Regions from separate parts of the Homo sapiens genome. Here region 2 is linked to region 1. The links come from fine-mapping of genetic effects on gene expression. Tissue or cell type: gastroesophageal junction. Region 1 holds a variant in brackets; the other region holds the start of a gene. All regions are shown on one strand. Distances are from middle to middle.

Region 1 (8,258 bases):
AGCTGCCCCTCCCATCCATGCCCTCCCCACCTGGTGCCATTACTGCACAAAGGGCCTGGGTTCAGCCAGGGGTGCGTGCACACAGCACCTGTCCCCAAGAGACAAGCCACCTGGCCATTTCCTACAGTCACTGCCCACACAGCCACATCTTACCCCTGGGCCTGGTGGGACTGAGGGGCCACAGTCACACTCCATGCTCTGCCCTTGGCTGTGATTGCGAACCAGAGACCCCCTGATAGCCCTGGACACCCTGAGCCTCAGCCACAGTGACGGGCCCCCGGGCCATAGGTGGTAGGGCCAGTGGTCCCCCTGACCTGCCACACCCTCCCTGCAGGACTGGTCCAAGGTCGGCTCCCATGAGCAGCCCTCAGGCGCCACTCTGCAGCGGAGGAAGGACCGAGTGGAGCTCCTGCGAGACACAGAGCCAGGCCCTGCCAGTGGGGGCACCCTGGGCCCCAGCGGGGAAGAGGCACCGCGACCCCGGATGTCCCCTGCCACCATCGCAGCCAAGGTAGGCTGGCCAGGGCCCCCCTTCACGCCCAGGTCAGTCCCAGGAGGCCCAGCCAGTGGCCTCAGGGCCGGCTCCAACCACCTGGCAGGGCTGCCTGGAATTTGGGCAGAGGGGATTGGGGGCGCAAGGCTTCAGCCTGCACTTTCCCACCCTCAGCACGGTGAGGAGGTGTCCCCCGCCGCCAGTGACCTGGCCATGGTGCTGACGCGGGGCCTGAGCCTGGAGCACCAGAAGAGCAGCCGGGACTCGCTGCAGTACTCCAGCGGCTACAGCACGCAGACCACCACGCCCTCCTGCTCTGAGGACACCATCCCCTCCCAAGGCAGGCCCGCGGGGCTGGGGTGGGACCAGGGACAGCTGGGACTTAGCCATCCAGGAGGGCCCCGTCCTTCCCCCTCTGTGCTCACCCTGGTGGGCTGGGGGCAAGGGGCCACCTGGGCCCTGGGCCTCACTGTGTCCCGTGCCCCCAGGCTCCGACTACGACTGCTACTCCGTGAATGGGGATGCGGACAGCGAGGGCCCGCCCGAGTTTGACAAGTCATCCACCATCCCGCGCAACAGCAACATCGCCCAGAACTACCGCCGCCTGATCCAGACCAAGCGCCCAGCCTCCACTGCTGGGCTGCCCACCGCGGGGCTGCCCACGGCCACTGGCCTGCCCTCGGGCGCACCCCCCGGCGTGGCCACCATCCGCCGCACACCCTCCACCAAGCCCACCGTGCGCCGCGCCCTGTCCAGCGCTGGCCCCATCCCCATCCGGCCGCCCATCGTCCCTGTGAAGACGCCCACGGTGCCTGACTCCCCCGGCTACATGGGGCCCACACGGGCGGGCAGTGAGGAGTGCGTCTTCTATACCGACGAGACCGCCTCACCCCTGGCACCGGACCTCGCCAAGGCCTCCCCAAAGAGGCTCAGCCTGCCCAACACAGCCTGGGGCAGCCCATCCCCAGAGGCAGCCGGGTACCCCGGGGCAGGGGCCGAGGACGAGCAGCAGCAGCTGGCGGCCAACCGGCACAGCCTGGTGGAGAAGCTGGGGGAGCTGGTGGCGGGTGCCCACGCACTGGGTGAGGGCCAGTTCCCCTTCCCCACTGCTCTGTCGGCCACCCCCACGGAGGAGACGCCCACCCCACCCCCAGCCGCCACCAGCGACCCCCCGGCCGAAGACATGCTGGTGGCCATCCGGCGTGGGGTCCGGCTCCGCAGGACCGTCACCAACGACAGGTCGGCGCCCCGCATCTTATGATGGCGCCACCCTCCCCATCCTCTCAGGCCCCAGTGCGAGCAGGTGGCCTGGTCTGTGAGCCGCAGGCACTCAGAGCAAAGGCCCAGCCAGGAGAGAGGACAGAGCCAGGGCAGAGGCCATGCCACTTTATGGAAAGACACCTCACTTGGATTCCAGCATTTAAACAGGAAGTGACTTCTTAGCAAGCCTGGCCAGGACGGAGCCTGCAGGCCTGGGCCTGGTTCGGGGTCTGTTTTATGCTCTTCGGTCCCTCCTCTTCCTCCTCTGGGGCCCTGCCTCTTCCCTACCCATAAGCACCAGAGCCAGGGCCGCTGCCCATGACAGAGGGGCCAGGCTGGCCTCCCTTTCACCATCCCGGCCTCTCCCAGGGCTGGTCCTGCCTCAGCTCCTCCTGGAATGCTGGCCCCCCTCTCCCCTGCCTGAGCCCCCTCCTCCCCTCTTGCCTTCTCTCTGCCTCTCCCAGGCCCCTCTCCCTCCAGGAGGCGGGGCGGCTGTGGAGGGGCCAGGTGCACGCTGGGCTGGATGTCTGCTGGGGGCTGGGGGCCAGGGCGGCAGGTTGGAGTTGGGCGGCCAGGCCCCCCGTGTGGGAAGGGAGTTCCAGGGCCCACGCCAAGTCTCAGGGAGGAAACCAGGGGCTGCTTGGGGGGGGGGGTCTTGGGGGCCCTGTGGTGGCTCCCACCCCTCGCCTCCCCCACCCCGTGAGGCTGGCTGGAGGGGGCCAGAGCAGCTCTTTGGAAACTAGGGCAGCAGGGTTAGGAGGCCGGAGGCCCTGGGGTCACCGGCCAGCCACACAGGCACCGTTTTCAGATGTCCACTTCTCATTGGGTACATCAATCTTTTAACTTTGGGGGTCACAGTTTTAGCCACCTTTCGGGGGGTGACTGGAGCAGTAGGAGGTGTGGGGTCATTTTATGAATATAATAAAATGGAGCTGACTGTGGACGAGGACTAAGTGTGGGGGAGAGGGGACGATACAGGGTGTGTGTCTGGGAGTGCCTGGGGGACAGGGACCCCCCGGTGGTCCTATGGCAGGATGAGAAGGGAGGGACTTGGCTCCCCCAGAGCCCGGTGGAAGCTACTGTTCTCTCCAGTGTCTCGAGCGTAGCCAAAATAAGGTTGGGAGGCTCCCGGCCTGTCTGCTGTGGTCTGAGCTGGCTGCAAGCCCAGGTGGGGGAGCGAGTCTGGGAAGATTGGCTTTGACTCTCTGTTGCCGGAGGAGATGCCATCCCAGCACGGCCCCCACTGTAGTCCAGGCTCGTGGTGGCAGCGGGGGCAAGGGGAGGGGCAAGGCTGCCCCCACCCCACGCACCAAGTCACGCCAAGTCTCAGCAGGTAAAAGCACGTGAGCCTAGGGCGAGCGGAGGGAGTCCTGGTGGCCCCGCAGGTCAGGAGGGAAAGCAGGGCTCAGAGGGCATCGTGGCCCCAGGGCAGGGTCCTACCTGGGGGTCAGGAGCACCTTGGTCTTGATGATTGATTGATTGATTGATAGAATGGAGCTGGGTCTGAGCCTCCCAGGCTTGAGCTCCTGGGAGTTCTTGTGCGGTGAGCTGGGCAGCTCCTGGGTAGGTCCGGGCACCAAGCAGGCCCTGATGTGGACAGAGTCCCATCAGAGGGAGCTGATGAAGAATGGTCCCTGTAAGTAAGTCACTAGGTTCAACAACTGCCTGGCCGAGCACTCAGCCCGTGGAGCTCAGGCCAACACCAGAGCCCCGGTTTTAGGGGCCAGGAGAGCAGGTGACCAATTATTTGGGGAGTCTTGGGTAGAATTTCCGCCACACATTCTCCCCAGGGCTGCAGGGGTCTTCCGAGGCAGGGCGGTGGAGCAGGATTCAGGATGTGGTGGGAATAGAGTGAGGGGCAGTGGGTGGGCAGACCTGGGCGTCAGAGGTCCTGATGGGAAAGGAGGCAGGGGCTACCCAGAGAGGGGGGCTCGTGTGGCACAGCCCCCACCGACTCCGCCGTCCCCCTCCCCTGTGAGCCCCGGGGGCTGTACATACTCTACTCCATCCCCTTGTCCATCCCTGAGACCACCCCCGCCGCCCTTGCGTCGACTTAGCAACCACCTCATAGGCCCACCCACCTCGGGATCCGAGCCAACCATCCCACATCACAAACTTTGGTTTGGGGGACTTTACGTTCGTTTAATTTCTCATTTTGTACGGAGAAATATTCTTTTCAAAAGCGTCTTTTGACTGAAGTAACTTTCCTGGTGCTGTTGTTAACTCGTTCCTTTTTTTAATTTATTCCCCCACCCCAGGCAGCCCTCCTGGTTCCTACTCACCCTCCCCCCCTCCCCCACCCTCCGTCCCATCTGAACCATTTGTTTCTTTTCTTTCCGTCAGATTTTGGAAAAATTCTCCTCTCCTCCCCGCCCCCTCCACACCATCCTCCCCGATTTAAATATAGTCACTGCTACAAGTAACAGATGCACTGTGAAGATTCCAGTATTAATAAAGGTGTACTGTAATTAACACCCCTGCCTCTGCCTGGCTGCTTCCTACCCCATCCCCACACCTCACCTTTCCCACCCCAGATCCCAGCTGCAGGGGGACAGGCTGGGGGTTCCCAGAGGATCTCAGATCTCAATGTAGGTGCCAGGGCCAGACCTGGGTCTCTGAAATGTCCCATATGTGTCCCTGCTAGGGGCTGCCTGGGGGCAGCCAGATGGAGGGAGGGAGGGAGAGAGGGAGGGAGGGAGAGAGGGAGGGAGGGAGGGAGGATGGCAAGGGTCAAAGCCAAGGTATCAGCCCAACACCGCCTCCCCCAACCCAGGCTTGCAGAGGCCCCTGGGCTGGGCTGGGCTGGGCTGGGCTGGGCTGGGCTGGGCTGGGCTGGGCCGGAACTCCATCCCTGGCATCCCTCTCATTCCACATCCCTTGGGCAGGCTCCATCCACTCCAAATCCGCATCCTCAGCCCTGCCCCCCTCCACTTCCTGCACTTGGCCACCTCCCATCCCCGCCAGGTTCACCCCTGAAGATGCAAAGCAAAGCAAACCAAAGGAAGTGGGGTGTTTAATAGAAAAAAGAAACTGGAAGAGCATCCACTATGGCAAGATGTGGCACTTGGCACCGCCCTCTGCCCCCAGCTCCCCAGTCTGCCAGGCTGGGGGGTCATAGAATGGCCACGCCGTGCTG[G/C]CTGTCTCCCCTGCAACCCACAGCTGTGCCCTCACTGCTGCGGGCCACAGGAGGCTCAGTACCCCCTTTAGGCGGGGGGACAGTGAGGGCAGCACCAGGAGAAGCCAGGAGCTGTGTCCCCATCCACCTTCAGGTCCCCAGGTCCCCTCCGCTCCAGGTGAGGCCATGACAGCTATGGAAGGCAGGAAGCTGAGCCCTGCTGTGGCACAGAATCCCCCTCAAAGGAAAAACACCCTTCCCAGGGGTCCTCTCCCAAGGGGGGCTCCCACCACCACCCCTTGAAGTCTCAGACCCAGTTGAACTCCTGTGGGAGCTGGTCTGGCTGCCCCTATCCGCAGTCACCATCCAGGGTGCTCAGGGCAAGAGGCCCTCGCCCTGTGCCCTGACCGGCCTCACCGAGCCCGTGGAGTGAGGCGGGGAGCTGGGGGACCACGGGGGCGGAGGGTACAGCTGGGTGGCCGCATACTGCAATGAGGGCTCTGGGCTGCAAGACTGAGGACTTGGCACCTCACAGTCCTGCCAGTTTAGGACGGAGCTTTGTTTACCTGCAAGAGATAGGGGAAAAAAAAAAAGACTGCAGCAGTGTTCAAGACCACCCTCCCCACTAAGCCAAGCCGCATGTGCTTGTCCCCCACTCTACCCAGGGCCCATCCTGGCTTCCAGAAATGGCTTGTAGCCCCGGGGAGCAGAGGATATGCCCGGGAGGACGCCAGCTCTGCCAGCTGGCCTGGGTGGGCCCAGATGCCTGGCCTCCCACCCCCAGGCGCCATCCCCTGAGAGCTCCTTACAGCAGGAGCAGTACAGCAGCTCCATGACCCGGAAGCAGTTGTCCAGCAGGGCTTTGGGCCGCACCAGCTTCAGGTTTGGCCCTGGGGCATTCAAGAGGGACAACACGGATTCCACCTTGGGGCTGACCTCCACATCCTGGAAAGGAGGAAACAGTCAGGAGCGGTGGCGAGATGGGGCCGCACCCCAGGAGAGCCGTGAGGGCTGTCCAGTCACCTGGAGCTGCCCAAACCCCGGAAGAAGGACCAGACTTCCTGTGACCATGAGCCTGGATAGCTATTTCTCACCATCTTCTTCCTGTGGGCATGGGGAGGGTCCCAGATGCCACCACTCACCCATGTACAACTCAGAGGCTTCGCTTTTCCATCCTTGAAAAATGAGTAAAGGGCGTAGACCAGGACAGTGAGGAAAGTGGGGCAAACTGCACCCAGGCACGGCCACCCACCACTGCGTGAGGACCCCCTGACCTGGGGAAAACTGTCCCTCAAGAAGCAGACATCTCCATCAACTCCAAGGAACAAGAGAAGGTCCTCACAGAGACACTGAGGCTTAAGTCACATACACAGGGCAGGGTGTCCAGCTTCAAGCTGGGGTGCTTTCTCTCCACGATATGCAACAACAGGGTCATGTGGGGTGCACCGTGGCACCAAGGGAATCAAGTCCCTGAACAGGAGGTCAGGGCCACTGTAGAAAGCATCATGGGAAACGTGGGGGGTGATCTTCTGGAAGGGGGTGACAACAAGGCAACATGTCCTGGGCCAAATTGTCCCTCTCCTCCCCCAAAAAGCTGTCTTGGTCCTACCCCTTGGTACCCGTGAATGTGACCCTATTTGGAAATAGGTTCTTTGCAGAGGTAATTAAGTTCAGGATCTTAGAAGGACATCATCCTGGATTTCAGGTAGGCCCTAAATCCAATGCCTGATGTCCTTGTAAGAGAAAGGTGACAGACATGGAAACAGGGCAGAAGGCCATGAAAAGACTGAGACGGCCAGGAATGGTGGTTCAACCTGTAATCCCAGCACTTTGGGAGGCTGAGGGAGGCATATCACTTGAGGCCAGGAGTTCAAGACCAGCCTAACCAACATGGCAGAACCCCGTCTCTACTAAAAATACAGGTGTGGTGGCAGGCATCTATAATCCCAGCTACTTGGGAGGCTGAGGCAGGAGAATTGCTTGAACCTGGGAGACGGAGGTTGCAGTGAGCCAAGATTGCCCCACTGCAATGCACCTGGGCGACACAGTGAGACTCCGCCTCAAAAAAACAAAAAAAGCCACCACAGAGGCCAGGCAGGATGTAATCCCAGTCCTGTAATCCCAGGACTTTGGGAGGCTGAGGCAGAAAGATCACTTGAGGCCAGGGGTTCAAGACCAGCCTGGGCAACATAGCGAGACCCCCATCTCTAAAACAATAAAAAAGAAATAAAATGAAATAAACAGGAAAAAGAGCCACCAAGCAGATCAAGGAGTCTCCTGACTTTGTAGGAATTGACAGCCTCCCCACCAGTCTGGTTCCAGGAAAGCTCCAGGCAGCTGCAAAACAGGTGCTAGTCCCTAAGCCCTTTCACCGTCGGAAGCTCACAGTTGGCCTGGGATGTTCTCCCGACAAGCTGGGCCTTGTCAGCAGCTGGCTGGGCAGGGCAGCAGGTGGATCCCAGGGACAGGTGTGCACCAGAGTCCTGAGGAGGTCTGGTGGAGACGGGGAGAGGTCCCACCGCACACACGGCCTGCATGGGTCATCTCGCCACCTTCCTTTTTTACTACAACTCAGGCATTTTAGAGGATAATATCCCTGAGGCCTCAGATCAATTTCTCTGAGCGGGTCAGGGATGGGGGACCTCTTTTTTTAATTAACTAAAGTCCATAATTTACATTAGGGCTCACACTCTCTGTTGTACAGTTCTGTGGGTTGTGACAAATGCATGATGTCATGTATACAACATGAATGCATTATACAGCATAGTTTTTTGTTTTTTGTTTTGAGATGGAGTTTTTCGTTCTTGTTGCCCAAGCTGGAGTGCAATGGTGCAATCTCAGCTCACTGCAACCTCTGCCTCCCAGGTTCAAGCGATTCTCCTGCCTCAGCCTCCTGAGTAGCTGGGATAACAGGTGCCCACCACCAGGACTGGCTTATTTTTGTATTTTTAGTAGAGACGGGGTTTCACCATTTGGCCAGGCTGGTCTCAAACTCCTGACCTCGGCCTCCCAAAGTGCTGGGATTACAGGCATGAGCCGCCGCGCCCGGCCTGCAGCATGTTTTACTGCCCTAAACATTCCCTGTGCTCCATCCATTCTTCCCCTCTCCCCCTACCCCACCTCCAGGACCCTCGTGTTGCAGAAACAAAGAGGGTACGATGACTTGCCCAGGATCCAGAGGGAGAGAGGCAGAGCCTAGAACAGAGTCTCAGAGGCATCGCCTGCACCCCGAGCCCGGCTCTCATGACCACCACGGCTGCCTCTTCCTTCCACAGGCCTCTTTTCCTGCACCCCTCCCCCACTTCTCCCACGTCCCTCTGCTTGTGCCCATCTTTCCGTGTATTCACCCTTTCCCTCACTAGCCTTTGGCCACACCTCACACACATGTAC
Region 2 (8,000 bases), 140 kb before region 1:
CTTGGGGTGGCTAGGGGCAACTCCCCCAACTTCAGACCTGTTCCAGTGCTTCCCCAAGCCACTGAAGCTGTCCATATACATTTTATAAAAGTGATCAGGGAGAAGGGAGGGGGAGAAACAAAAACGAACCCAGGTTGCAGCACACTCAGCATTAATCACTAGATCAGCCTGCGCTCAGACCTGCTTCCTCATAGCTGTTTGGTGCCTGCTGTTTCAGAATCACGTAGACCCTGCTAAAGATCATAGTTCCCCTCAATGCTCTGGAGATAACAACTTGAACATTAGGAAACGTTAAGTTTTCCGTTTGAGATATTTATTCTTGGTCCTGTGTACCAGTGAAACAACTGACATCAGCTGATCTGAAGGACCTCACGAGAAGCTGATTCACCAAAGAATGCGGTTTCCACATCCTGATGATTTCATCCGTCTTACCCAACCAATCAGTCACCTGGTTTTTCAGCCCTTCACCCTCCAGGATCCCCTTAAAAACCCCAGTCCAGAACTCTTCCGGGAGATGGATTTGAGGGTCTCCTCCCATCTCATCACTCAGTGACCTTTGATCATCACTTTCTCTGCTGCATCCCCACTGTCTCTGTGCATTGGTCTGTTACTGCACAGTGGGCACACAAACGTGTTGGTCCTATAACACCACTGAGTCTAGGGTCCAAATCCTCCTAGCCCCTGAGAGAGGAGGAAGTTCCTTCTCCCTGGGACCAAGAGCCAAGCTCAGATCCTGCCCCAGTGTGAACCCTCTTCCAGGCTGGTTTGAGATTGGGTGCATTTCTTCCCTTTAGGTTTTTCTCGTGCTTCCTTAGCCTCAAACAATAACAAAATAGTCTTATATTAGCAAATTTGGAATGGCAAAGTAGCTTAACAGCAGGCTTGATGAAAATAACCCTTCCAACACATGCTTGTGGAAGTTACATTGGAGAATCCATTCTCAGCAAAGCAGACCAGGAGACTTCTAACTGGGGGATGTTCAGAAAATGTCAGGGTAGCTGTGTGGCAGAACTCCAAGGAGCACTGTGCACAGAATACCATGGGAATGGGGCTCCCTGGCCTCGTTCCACACTGGGCCCCCAGTGAGTGTGGCATGCTAAGTCTAACCACTTCTTTAGGAGCCTCAAGTCAGAGGTGACAATACTGTAACATTGGTGAGGGCCTGCTACATTTCAAGACCTCTACCTAATACCTTAAACCCTGTTGCCCTGAAACTCCAGCTACAATTACATTGCTGTTGGAGAAACTGCTTTGCACAGTTCAAGATTTTGGTACAATTTCTTACAATGTCATCAGCAGCCTCTTGCTACAAGTTATGTCATAACTTTTACATACTTGTAATAGCTATTATGAATAGTTGTTACAGAACTATTACAAGTTCTAGCATAACAACCAAGCATCACACAGATGCAGATGAATTGTAACTGTGAAATAATGACTAGTATGCAGTCAGGCACATCAGTTATCCCCTAGTCTAGAAGAGTTTCAACAGGAATGGTCACAGGTCAGAGAAGAGGAACAAGGGTGGAAGGCAAGGGTAGCCTTTGGGCTTTATTTTTACCACCACTGCTAGCTCAATTATGCATAAATAATCTTACCTAGTTGGCATTTTTCAAGATATTAGAGAAAAGAACCACTTCTTTCTAGGAACTTCTGACCTAAAGGTAGGCATTGGTCTGGGCCTTGAATAAAAAACTGGTTACTTAGCAACCTGAGCCAGAATATAATTTCAGGAGAAAAGAATACTTCTGGTAAAAAAAAAATTCCTTATTGTTTGAATTATTAAAAACTGTATCATTACCCTTGGGAAATTCAGTTCACCTCTAAGAAAAAGCCAAACCAAAAAGCAAAAGAAACATGAAATATATTAGATATGCGTCCCGTGGAAATGCACACACATTGGAGAAATAGAACCAAATCATTCCCATTGATTTACATTTTTTCAGTGTTTTTCATCAACCATCATCAAAATCCTAAAACCAAACTTTGCAAGACATTTGGAGATGTCCTTGGCAGCACTACTACTACTTGTTAGCGCACCTACCTTCATTCATAGGATTGTGTCAGCAAAGGTTTTAACAACTATGAAAACCCCACCTGTATAGGAGAATACATTTTTTATGGATTTTTCTAGACATGATATATCCATGACTTGCCGAGTTTTGGATTAGCCTTTGTATTCATTTTCTATGGCTGCATAACAAATTACCACAAAACTAGGAGAGCAAAACAACACAAATTTATTATCTCACAGTTTCCATGGGTTGAGAGCCCAGTGTGAACTGGATTCTCAGCTCAGGGTTCCACAAGGCTGAAATCAAGGTGCTGGCCAGCTGCATCCTCATCAGGAGGCTCAACTAGGGAAAGATCTGCTTCCAAGGACCCTCAATGTGTTGGCAAAATTCATTCCTTTGTGGCCATATGACTAAACTCCTTACAGGAGAGTCTCTCTTCCAGTTCAAATTTCTTCTAATCTCTTTTAAGTACTCACTTGATTCGGTCAGGCCGACTCAAGTTAATCTCTCTTTTTATTAATTCAATGTCTGCTGATTAGGGACCTTAATTACATCTGCAAAATCTCTTCTGCGATATTACATAATATAATCATGTGAGTGATGCATAGCCCATCATATTTACAAGTCTTGTTCACGCTGAAAGAGGGCATAATACAGGGCATGAACACGAAGGGGTGGGAATATTGGAGGTCATCCTAGAATTCTGCCTACTTTTGCCCTTTACTCATTGCGTCCCTGTTTCTGTTGAGGAAAATACTCCATTTTCAAGACTGTTATAAGGCCTATATATGCACTTTTCATTCATTAAAGAAAAGTATCACCATGCATTCTGAAACTGTTATTCTTTGAGCTCCACTGTAATCTAGCCCTTGTCCTAAGTCCCTGTTCACTCTGAAAGCTTATGATAGGAAAGGCTGATGCACCTCCCTGTTAACTGCATGTTTACCACACTCCGGCCATAAATTGCTTTTAAATATTTTGCCACATAGTTGGGATTTCTGTCTCACCATGTAATGTGATTCCCGAAGCAGCTGAAGGGGCTGCTTTCCAGGGGACCTATCTAGAGACCCGCACTCAGCAGATCTGGGGCCTTTCTCTCTGTCTGTAACCAGCCCTCCTAGGCATCAGAGCATGTTAAACACACCCCCAAATGGTGGAGTGACAGACACTGGTGGTACCTGAGATCTTAGGTGGTAGACAGGTAGTGCCATTTTTAATTGAGAATTTATTTTGATGTGTCTTAGAAAAAATATACCTATTCAAACTCATGGTTTTAGGGCATAAGCAAAGCTAAAAGAGATTTAAGGTATTTTTTAAAGTGAGTTGATTTGAGGAAAACATTAAATAGATAATACAAGTGGCTAGAATATGGTGAAAGTGATGACAGTGTTACTGCAGTTAGGGAAACGTCTGCATCTAGGAAATTGGTAAGTGACCAACTACTGAATGAACTAGTGAATTCGGTGACTATTGAATAAATTATGTTAAGTGAATCAGACTCCAAGAACCCATTCGGTCTTACGAACGTCTACAGAAGCCCACCACGTGCCATCAGTTGGGCGTGAGCTACACACCCATTAAAGCACGTCTCAAACCACACTCCAGCTACCTGGCGCGCAGCGCGATAGTGTGTGCAGTGTGGGTGGAGCCTTCCGAGGGCGTGGCCAATCCACCTGCGGCCTGCGGTGGGGGCGTGGCTGGAGAGGGGCGGGCCCTCGCGACGGAAGGCGGAAGTGCTGTAGAGTCATGTGACTCGAGTAACATGGCCGCTGTCTCGTGAGTCCCGCTAGTGCCGGGCGGGAGTTGTTAAGCGGCCAGGGTCAGGTGTGCTGGAGCGGGGTCCGGGCCCGGGTTCCAGGGCGAGGCGGCGGAGCGTGGCAGGCAAGCCTAGAGCGGCGTGGTCCATGCGCCGGCGCCGGGGGCAGAGCGGAGCCGCAGACTCCCCTGGCCCCGGCGCGGCCCCGGCAGCCGCGGGCTAAGGAGTCGCGAGGTTCCCCCAGCTGCCACCATGAACCCCGAGAAGGATTTCGCGCCGCTCACGCCTAACATCGTGCGCGCCCTCAATGACAAGCTGTACGAAAAGCGGAAGGTGGCAGCGCTGGAGATCGAGAAGTAAGAGCCGCCAGGACCCCTCCCTGGCTATGCAGCCCCTGACTGCTCTGCTCCCCAGGGGGACTTCTCACGCCTTCCCAGCCAGGGTTACTTTCCCAGGTTTTAGGCCCTTACCTTAGCGCAGTGTTTAAGAGCAGATTGGGAGCCATATCTGGGAGTCCCTGCTTTACTCCTGACTGGCTGTGTGATTTGGTCCCAGCTTTTTAACCTCCCGGTGCCACAAAGGGCTGCAGTGAGAATGAAGTGACATCATGTATGGGTAGTGCTTTGCACAGTGCATGGCACATGGTGAGTCTTCGGTGCGGTGCCACCCAAACCAGCAAATCAGAGAGTTGTCTCTGTGGTGAGAGAGAAGTCAGAAGCCGGAGAATTTGCAGGTGATGCTGACCAGCCTGGTTTCTTACCCAGCTTCTGAGAAGTGAAGGAGATTGTTAGTGACCAAGTAGAGAAATCAGGTCGGAAAACTCGTGATCTCAAGGCTCAGAGAGTTTTTTGTTTTATCTGTGTTATAACACCCTTCCCTGCAAGTGGAAGTAGAAATAATTTGACCTTTCTTGCTTCTGCAGTCTTGTTACATGTATGTGTAACAATGATCTGATATTTTACTTTATTTCCCAATGTACAAAACAGCGAAAGTTTAACTGGGGATGTTTTATTTATTTTTTTTTCTGCAGTATTATTTTACTTTTGTGGGTTTTTTCCCAGTCACATTTTAGTGTTAAAGTCAAGTGAGTGAGTGATTTCAGAAAATTGGAAAGAAGCAGGCTGTGAAACTGGAAGAATACCAGTCTGCGAGTCAGAAAAGGTGAATTGTATTTCTGTTCTGTCCAGTAGAGTAGCCGTTGGCCGTGCGTAGCTATTATAAATTTAAATTATTAAAGATTAAACTTTAGTTTCTCAGTCACACTACCCGTATTTCAAGTGTTCAATAGCCACATGTAGCTATTGGCTGCTATATAGGGCAGCACAGATTATAGACTGTTTCCATCATTGCAGAATGCTCTATTGGACTGCTCTAATCTATTCCGTGGTGTGACATTCATTCGTTAACCTGGGGCAAATTCCTTAACTCAGGGTTTCTCAGCCTCTGCACCATTCACATTTTGGGGCAGATGATTTTTGGTTGTAGTGGGCTGTCCTGTGCCTTGCAGGATTTTTAACAGCGTCTCTGACCTCTTCCCACTGGATGCCAGTAGCACTCCATCCGTTGTAACAATCAAAAATGTCTTCAGACATTGCTAAATGTCCCCTGAAGGAGCAAAATTGCCCCGGTTGACAACTGCTGCTTGCAATCCAAATCAAATGTTGCTTTGGATTTTAGTTTCCTCCTAAACTAAAGGGTTCGGACCTTGATAAGAAATCCCCCACCCTGCCTCCATTCAGCTCTCATACTCAGTATGTCCACAACCATCTAGCTGCTTCTCTCATCAGACACCACTTTCTTGACTGCTCCTTTTATATAGCTTTTTGTTTATGCCTGACTCTCACGAATGCTAGCAAGTCTTATTGCACATTGCCATACTGAATAGAGGGACCCAGAAATGATATATAGGCATGGTTCCGTGTCCATGGGGTTTTGTTGGCTTTGAAGTTGCCTTGACACCTAGTTTTGTCCCTCACCCACTCTGCTTCTCAGGAATATCCGGTTTTATTGTAGCTTGAGTCGTCTGTTGAGTCCTTGAAGAGAGAGGTATTCATCTCAACATTATTGTTGCTTCCAGCGCAACCTGTGTATCTGTTCTCACTCTGCACACAGTTCTGTAAGGGTTTTGTCTTTGATCGAGTTCATTTTGTATTGGACATTGCCCTTGATTTGTGGAATTTAGAGAAACTCAGCAGTGCCTTGACTGTGAACTCCTTAAGAGCAGAGAGTTCTGTTTATGTATCTGTTTTATTTATCCTTAGCACTTAGCCTGGCAGCACTTGACAGCTGGTGTCCGAATAAATGAATGACCGTACATTTTCGGTGGGGAAATAACATTGCAGGCTCAGGACCTTGCTGCCCAAAAGCGTGGCCTACAGACAGCAGCATCAGGATCACCTGGGAGCTTGTTAGAGGCTCTGCAGCTTTGCTCCAGACCTATGGAATCAGAATCTGCATTTTAACAAGATCCCTGGGTGATTTGTGTGCACATTAAAGTTTGAGAAGCACTGGCCTCAAAGACCCTCTCATCTGTTTCCAACCTTCTCCAGTCATGCTTAGAATGAAGAATGGCTGGTTAGTTCAATGCCTTCCTCAGAACATATGCTTCACAAATTGCTTAGAGATAGATACTGACTTACTTATCTGTGCTTCACCAGCACCAGCATTTTGCTTGTCTGAGCACTTTCTATGTGTCAGGTACACATAGGATATTGTATGTTTTAATATATTCTTCATTTGGCCTGGTCAAAGTGACCCTCAGCAAACACAGACTATTAATTAATCTCTCATTAATCAGACTGCAGATGCCCAACAAAAGAAGAGTCCGAATATTGGCAGTTATCTATGTAGTGTAAATGAGTCAGTTCATGTGCTCCCTAAATGAAAGTGCTTAGTCCTGTTCTTAGGTAAGTTGCCCCTTTAAGATACCCTATTTCCTGAGAGGCTGCGTGGCATGGTGTTTAAGAGCAGGCTCTGGAACTGGGGTTCAAGCTCCCATTTACTGGCTAGGTGACCCTGAGCAAGCTAATTAACCTCTGTGCCTCAATTTCTTCATCTGTAAAAAGAGCATAATAATAATATGCATAGAGTTGTTTGAGCTAATGTTGTAAAGTGCTGTGTTAGTCTGTTCTTGCTCTGCTATAAACAAATACCTGAGACTGGGTAATTTATAAAGAAAAGAGATTTATTTGGCTCACGGTTCTGCAAGCTGTACAGAAAGCATAGCGGCTTCTGCTTCTGGCGGGGCCTCAGGATGCTTCCAATCATGATGGAGGGCAAAGAGGGAGCAAGGCGTCCCACATGGCGGGAGCAGGAGCAAAAGAGAGTGAGCAGGGAGGTGCTGCACACTTTCAAACAACCAGATCTCTTGAGAACTCACTATCACAAGAACAGCACCAAGAAGATGGTGCTAGGCCATTCATCATCATGGGAGAAATCCACCCCCATGATCCAGCCACCTCCACCAGGCCCCATCTCCAACACTGGGAACTACAGTTGAACAAGAGATTTGGTGGGGACACAGATCCAAACCATATCAAGTATTTAGTGTAGTAGTGGGCACATTGTAATTGTTACAAACTGTATACATAGAGAGAGAATTGTTATGTAATTGCCCTAATTATTTCTAACATACGTATATCACATAGTTGTCATCTGTCAGTACTGCTGTTACCACTTTTTGGTAGGGAGAATGATAGCCTCCTATATTTGCCCCATGCTAATCCCTGGAGCCTGTGAATATGTTATGTTACACAGCAAGGGGGAATTAAGGTTGCTAATCACTAACCTTAAAAATAGAGAGATTATCCTGTATTATCGAGGTGGGCCCAATGTAACCCTAACCAGAAGAGTCAGTGTCAGAGTGATGTGATGTAAGAAAACTTACCCGGATCATCACTGGCTTTGAAGATGGAAGGGAACCACCAGCCAAGGAATGCTGGCAGCCTCTAGAAGCTGGCAAGAAAATGGATTTTCCCCTAGAGCATCACAAAATAACATAGCCTGCCAACATCTTGATTTTAGCTCAGTAAGACCCATAGTAACAAATGCGTTGTTCTTGAATTTTTTTAATTTTTTAATTTATTTTATAGAGATGGGGGTCTCACTATGTTGCCCAGGCTGGTCTTGAACTCCTAGGCTGAAACAATCCTCCCACTGCAGCCTCCCAAAGTGCTGGGATTACAGGCAAGAGCCACTGCCCCAGCCTGGTGTCTCCTTTTATGAGGACA

What was found. PIP is the estimated chance that this variant, and not a neighbour inherited with it, causes the effect.
Region 2: VAC14 starts here. The variant in region 1 is fine-mapped to the expression of VAC14 in gastroesophageal junction (GTEx, PIP 0.99).

What each region holds. Positions count from the first base shown.
Region 1 is chr16:70,657,173-70,665,430 of GRCh38, reverse strand. IL34 (interleukin 34) reads right to left here. Exons shown (of 6, transcript NM_001393494.1): 5 at 5,678-5,813; 6 at 4,749-5,434. The coding sequence ends at 5,244. It overlaps MTSS2 (MTSS I-BAR domain containing 2), which reads left to right. Exons shown (of 15, transcript NM_138383.3): 13 at 335-511; 14 at 668-833; 15 at 982-4,227. The coding sequence ends at 1,754. Among named protein-coding and RNA genes, the nearest start is that of IL34, 15 kb to the right of the region's middle. The variant G/C (reference allele first, on the strand shown) is at 4,890.
Region 2 is chr16:70,796,924-70,804,923 of GRCh38, reverse strand. It overlaps VAC14 (VAC14 component of PIKFYVE complex), which reads left to right and starts at 3,766. Exons shown (of 19, transcript NM_018052.5): 1 at 3,766-4,127. The coding sequence starts at 4,024. It overlaps HYDIN (HYDIN axonemal central pair apparatus protein), which reads left to right. Exons shown (of 86, transcript NM_001270974.2): 86 at 1-2,840. RefSeq lists enhancers at 3,731-3,790, 3,458-4,080 and a silencer at 3,871-4,060.